Linked DNA regions of Homo sapiens: region 2 is reported to be linked to region 1. Evidence: microRNA targets listed by miRTarBase, many of them from high-throughput screens and not tested one by one. Region 1 holds a microRNA gene; the other region holds the end of a gene's coding sequence.

Region 1 (3,412 bases):
GCGCCTGCCACCACACCTGGCTAATTTTTGTATTTTTAGTAGAGACAGGGTTTCACCATATTGGCCAGGCTGGTCTCGAACTCCCGACCTCATGATCCGCCCACCTCAGCCTCCCAAAGTGCTGGGATTACAGACGTGAGCCACCGCACACGTCCAGCACCTTTTAAATTACGTGGACAGGCCCGGTGTGGTGGCTCACCTGTAATCCTAGCAGTTTGGGAAGCCAAGGCAGAAGGATTGCTTGAGCACAGGACTTCGAAACCAGCCTGGGAAACATACTTAGCCCCCTTATCTACAAAAAATGCAAAAATTAACTGGGTATGGTGGTACGTACTTATAGTCCCAGCTACTCAGGAGGCGGAGGTGGCTCACTTGAATCTGGAAGGCAGAGGTTGCAGAGAGCCAAGATCTGGCCACTGCCCTCTGGGCACCGGTGTAGTCTCAGCTACTCGGGAGACTGATGCAGAAGAACTGCCTAAACCCAGGAGGTGGAGGTTGCTGTGAGTTCCCACAACTGCACTCCAGGCTGGGCAATAGAGTGAGATCCTGTCTCAAAAAATGAAAAACATTTTTGCTCTACAAGATTACATTTAATTGGCAACTACCTAGCTTTGAACCAGCAAGGGGAAAAGTAACAGAACGGCATGTCTGTCTCACTAACTTCTTGTTTTTTTGAGACAGGTTCTTGCTCTGTCCCCCAGACTGCAGAGCGGCAACACAGCCGTCGGCTCACTGCAGCCTCAACGTCCCTGGCCATACACAACTGCAGCATTTTGGCTAAACCAGCATGGCTTACAGAGAACAAGTAGTTCTTTCTCTCTCTTTTTTAAGACAAGCGTCTTGCTCTGTTGCCCAGACTGGAGTTCGGTGGCGCGATCTCGGCTCACTGCAACCTCCGTCTGCCGGGTTCAAGCAGTTCTCCTGCCTCAGCCTACCGAGTAGCTGGGACTGCAAGCCTGTGCCATCATGCCCAGCTAATTTTTTTGTATTTTTAGTAGAGATGGGGTTTCACCATGCTGGCCAGGCTGGTCTCGAACTCCTGGCCTTGTGATCCGCCCTCCTCGGCCTCCCAAAGTGCTAGGATAATAGGCGTGCGCCACTGCGTCCTGCCACAATAGTTCTTTCAATGGTAAGACTAGTTGAAAACCTGAGTTAGATGTGTATCTCTAATCTTAGTGATATTTAAATGTAAATAAAAATGTTATGTCTGGAACACACTTGGGCTGCTTGGGATATATTCAGATAAATACTATTATACATAATTTATAAATAAATACTATTTATTTACTAATAGGGTATCAGAAAGGTACAATCCCTATGTCTCCAGGTTGACATAGAAATTTTCTACTGGTCCGAAAGTTGCATCTGTACGACTGGCCAGTTGCTTCTGGTTCAACAAGGACCTAACCTGCCAATCACACAGGACAGCTGGGGGCTGACATTCCAAATTGTAATCTTTACTAGGCACAGAGGCTTAGCAGGCCTCTGGTTTAATAACACACGAAAGTAACTGCTTGAAGTAGCAAGGCACTCACTCACAAGGCACCTATAGAGTTGGTACTTATGGTCTGGAAATAGCCACATTGTAAGCTGACCACCAGTTATAATTACCAAATATTGGCAGGGCACAGGGGATCATGCGTGTAATCCCAGCACTTTGGGAGGACGAAGCAGGAGGATTGAGCCCAGGCCTCAGCTTGCTTCTTTCGCTGTGTTGTGACTTGCCTCGAAATTCTTTCCAGCAAGAGATCCAAGAACCCGCTTTTGGGGTCTGGATTGGTTGCCTCTTCTCTGGCAATGGTGTGACCCAGGCTATCCCTGAATCCAAGCATTATAGCTGCTACGGAACCCAGCCTCACAACCCAGAGACCGTGGTCATTTCCTTAAAGCTGGGCTGAAGTCCAGTTTATGGCGCAGAACAAGCACCACGGTTTAGCTTTTACCTGCAGTGGCTCCTGGAGCCCCCCGCCCCCCCTCCCCCCCATGGTGTTTCTTCGGTGCTCGCCTCAGTCATTGGACCTCAGCTATGACAGCACTTTCATTCTGGCACCAGAAAGTGCCCTCAAGGCTGAGTGCCACAGACTGAGAAGTACCCTCCCTGTATTGTCCAGTACCTGGAAACTGCAGGCACATCCTCTATGCAGAAGATAAGAGATTTAAAACTGACTTCTGAATGTTGCTCAATAGCGAAAGGTAGATTGAGCACTCTCTCCAGTTCTCAGGAACAATGCAGAGCCTTGTAATGCAAATCCTAGGCCTGCCCTGGGGCTCATGCCTGTAATCCCAGCACTTTGGGGGTCCCCAGCCTGAATAACACCTTTTACATTACTTTGTTTTCTTTTTCTTTTTCTTTCTTTTTTTTTCTTAGTCTTGCTCTGTTGCCCAGGCTGGAGTGCCATGGAGCGATCATCAGCTCACTGCAGCCTCCGCCTCCTGGGTTCAAGCAATTCTCCTGCCTCAGCCTCCTGAGAAGCTGGGATTACAGGCGCCTGCCACCACACCTGGCTAATTTTTGTATTTTTAGTAGAGACAGGGTTTCACCATATTGGCCAGGCTGGTCTCGAACTCCTGACCTCGTGATCCGCCCACCTCAGCCTCCCAAAGTGCTGGGATTACAGACGTGAGCCACCGCACACGTCCAGCACCTTTTAAATTACGTGGACAGGCCCGGTGTGGTGGCTCACCTGTAATCCTAGCAGTTTGGGAAGCCAAGGCAGAAGGATTGCTTGAGCACAGGACTTCAAAACCAGCCTGGGAAACATACTGAGGCCCCCTTCTCTACAAAAGATTTAAAACTCAGCTGGGTGTGTTTGTGCACACCTATAGTCCCAGCTACTCTGGAGACGAAGGTGGATCACTTGAGTCTGGAAGGCAGAGGTTGCAGAGAGCCAAGATCTGGCCACTGCACTCCACCCTGGGCAACAGAGTGAGACCCTGTCTCTTTAAAAAATAAAGAAAAGGAAAAAGCTGCCTTTGTGGACACCTAAATAAAAAATAAAATGAACCTAAAACCTACTGGGTGCAGTGGCTCAGAGGCCGGGGTGAGAGGATGTTTGTGCCCAGGTGTTGATGACCAGCCTAGACAATGGTGGGAGACCCCAACCCTACAAAAAAAAAAAAAAATTAGCTAAGCATGGTCCTGTATGCCTGCCATCCCAACTACACGGGACGCTGGGGTGAGGGAGGTTGAGGCTACTGTGAGTCACGATCTCACCACTGCACTCCAGCCTGGGAGACAAGCCCATCTGGGCAACACAGTGAGACTCAATCACTAATTGAACAAAATCCAAAAATTTTAAAAAATCAATAATGCGGTCCAGGAATGGTGGCTCACACCTGTAAACCCAGCACTTTGGGAGGCTGAAGAGGGCGGATGACTCGAGGCTTGGAGTCTGAGACCTGGCCAACATGG
Region 2 (3,412 bases), not on the chromosome of region 1:
TGCCTCTCAAATATTTGAAGGTAGCTATTACTCCTTAGTCACATCTTTCAGCTGGTTTGGGAGTTTCAGTTTACGGTACCTTTTCCAACTTGGCAAATACCTCAGGATTTGCTCTAATTTGTAAATATCCTTTCACTGCATCCTGGAATAACATTAGTAATGTAAATGTGGTTTGAACAGCACTTTGTGTATCATTTTCCCATGATGTATTTTTCACCACTCTAAAATTAGATCAGTTTCTACACAACTGACTTACACGTTATTTCCAGCAAGCGAAAATCTCCAGATTTTTTCATCTATACTCTTGACAAGTGCTGTTTCCTTTTTCTATCAATGGCCTATTTGTTTCTAGGATAAAGACTAGGGTTCACCATGCCATCTGTAATTGTGTTCCTAATTAGCAGCCTCATGCATAGGCCAAACTTTCTTTTTTTTTTTTTTTTTTTTTTTTGAGACAGAGTCTCGCTCTGTCACCCAGGCTGGAGTGCAGTGGTGCGATCTCGGCTCACTGCAACCTCCACCTCCCGGGTTCAAGTGATTCTCCTGCCTCAGCCTCCCAAGTAGCTGGGACTACAGGCGCGTGCCACCACGCCCAGCTAACTTTTTGTGTTTTTAGTAGAGACAGGGTTTCACCGTGTTAGCCAGGATGGTCTCGATCTCCTGACCTCGTGATCCACCTGCCTCAGCCTCCCAAAGTACTGGGATTACAGACATGAGCCACCGCCCCTGGCCCAGTCTTCATATTTAACTGCACCTTCCTTCCTCTAGGCTTCCATATATTATTCATTCCCCTCAGCTAGGAATGCTTCCCCTGGGTCACCCAGGTCTACCCAATTCTTAGTTATCCTTCAAAACTTAGCTGAAATACCACTTCTCTGGGGGACTCTTCCTTGCCCTGCTCCCTATGTTCCCCTCCCAAAAGTACCTTTTACCTGTTACAATACCTTACAAATCTCCTTCAGCCCTTATCAAAATAGTAATATTTGTGCAATGAGGTGCCTGTCTCCTTAGCTATACCATGAAATCTATGAGGACACAGTCTGTCTTTACCTAGCACAGGTTTTTGCATGATTTATACATTCAGTAACTGTCTGTTGAATGAACGAACACTGAATGAATAGGATCAATATTTAGATTTCCCCAGGTAATCAAAGAAAACATTTAGCTAAGCCCTGGGTTGTATGCTGTACAAAGAAGAAACTGTATAGGTTACAAGACAATCTTGAGAAAGAAAGACCTCTCCAAAAAAGTGATGATATAATTTTAAAAATTTTCAAACTATGTCCTATAAAAACGAAGGGTAATTTTTTTTCACTCTTTCTAGTGTGGGGGTGGGGAGCATGGAAAAAGGCAAATAAGCACAGGTCAGTGGTATATTTGTTGTTTTACTGTTAATTTGACACATCTGAACCAAAGCATTCACAATACTTGATATACTTTGAAGAGAGTCATATACTATAGTCTTAAACATAACCACGGAACGAGCAGAACAATTAAAACTACATAAGGCCTTAAAATATATCCACAGTGTGTATTATTTCCATATTCATTCATTTACAAATTAGACTACATACCATTAATTTTATTTTTATTTTTCATTGTTTTATTCAGACAGGGTTCATTCAAGGAAAGGCAACTTAGTTTTTGTATGTGTGAGCTTTATTTTTTTACTATATTGGTTAATATAAAAGTTATGAATTAAACGTATTCTTATCTCCTATACCCAGGAGTGAATCCATGAAATTCTCAGATAGTAATCCAAAACAATAGGTCCTATTTTTAAAAATAGCTAAAGTGGGCCAGGCGCAGTGGCTCATGCCTGTAATTCCGACACTTTGGGAGGCCAAGGGCAGATCATGAGGTCAGGAGTTCAAGACCAGCCTGATCAACATGGCAAAACCCTGTCTCTACTAAAAATACAAAAATTAGCCAGGCGTGGTGGCAAGCATCTGTAATACCAGCTACTCAGGAGGCTGAGGCAGGAGAATCACTTGATCCCGGGAGGCAGAGGTTGCAGTGAATCAAGATCGCGCCACTGCACTCCAGCCTCAGTGACACAGCAAGACTCCATCTCAAAAAATGAAAAAAATAGCCAAAGTGAAAAGGGATCTGATAGCCAGTCTGTTAGTGGTCTTTAAGATCAACTCATGGACTTTCGGGATTTCATACAATGAAGACTACTGCAATTCTATGAAGACTATGAGATCAGTCAAAATTTAAAACATCGTATACAAAATCATTCTTGAAATCTCTAAATGCCTTTTAAGTAACCAGCATGAAAATTTTAAGTACTTGCCTCACAGTACCAAACTTAGAAGTCAAAACTAGTTAAAATTCAGTGCTATCATGACTTCTCATTTACAAGGTAACTCATTGGTAAATTAATAGATGGCATAAAAATTAAGATTTACATCTTTTTTAAAGGATAAATGTATGTAATCAGAGTATACAGAAAATTCAATGTATTTTACAATAAAATAACTTTAAACCTCTATCCCTGTACAACAGGGTTTAGGTTAATTCTAGTGAACTTGCATGGTTTTAAATCTCTTTTACAGTTCATTCCATTATGAGTACTTAAATTGCTTTAGATACATAGCTTTTTTCAAAATATTACAGTTGTATTCCAGGATAAGATTTAATATATTGAGATGTTTTAAAAATATTTATAAATTTGTTTCTAGTATGCAAAAGCATTTGGCAATACTTTTACAGCATTTGATTTTATAGAATTAAAATCTCATACAGTACTCATCTTGATGTTAAAAAAAAATTCACAGAAAAAATATAAATTACACAGCCTGACTGCACGGTACTGTTATTTCCAGTTTTTAGTTCTGGTAATTAAAACCTTCATTAAGTCTGTTAACAAATCATTACCTGTACATTTATGAAGGCAACTGACATGATTTGCAAACAAAACCTTCAGGTTTTATGTTATTTACCAAAGAGTGCAGTTCAGCAAGAAAGGAAAACCCAGTAGCAAATTTACAGAATATTTTACAAATTTACCAGTTCCTGTGACACAAACTGTTTCAACCTTTCAAGATACTGTCCATAAAGTTCCACATCATTGTGACCTGCTCCTTCAACCCAGAGAGGCTCCACAGGTCTTTGGCAACGTTCAAACAATGCGAGGCCATGTGAAAAGTCAATGACTTCATCTTCAGTCCCATGAATTATTAATACTGGAGAGGTTATCTTAGAGATTTTGTCAATGCTGCAGGGAAAAAGGAAGGGGGAAAAATGCAATAAATTAACTATGTAAAGGAACATATTCTTGTGCTATATCAGACAGATAATTCAAATATGAGAATTGTATGAATCAGTTCAGAAGGTAAGAATGTCTCCTGAATTTCCAGTAAGATTCAAAAATTGCCTTTTACATACTCCCTACCTTAAGATTATCTGA

The links. Region 1 holds the annotated microRNA hsa-miR-512-5p (CACUCAGCCUUGAGGGCACUUUC, at 2,053-2,075, opposite strand). A microRNA usually pairs through its seed, bases 2 to 8, with sites in the 3' UTR of a target mRNA and lowers its output. Matches are read on the target gene's strand: a 7mer-m8 pairs with bases 2 to 8, a 7mer-A1 pairs with bases 2 to 7 and ends in A, and an 8mer does both.
Region 2: miRTarBase lists ABHD17B as a target of hsa-miR-512-5p. Seed matches in the 3' UTR shown: 7mer-A1 at 1,963-1,969.

The regions. Positions count from the first base shown.
Region 1 is chr19:53,665,355-53,668,766 of GRCh38, reverse strand. MIR512-1 (microRNA 512-1) reads right to left here and starts at 2,088; the gene lies at 2,005-2,088. All of the region lies in intron 2 of LOC107985342 (a long non-coding RNA gene), which reads right to left. RefSeq lists enhancers at 1-499, 1,388-2,276, 2,277-3,164, 3,165-3,412.
Region 2 is chr9:71,863,787-71,867,198 of GRCh38, forward strand. It overlaps ABHD17B (abhydrolase domain containing 17B, depalmitoylase), which reads right to left. Exons shown (of 4, transcript NM_001025780.3): 4 at 1,366-3,220. The coding sequence ends at 3,001. Among named protein-coding and RNA genes, the nearest start is that of ABHD17B, 46 kb to the right of the region's middle.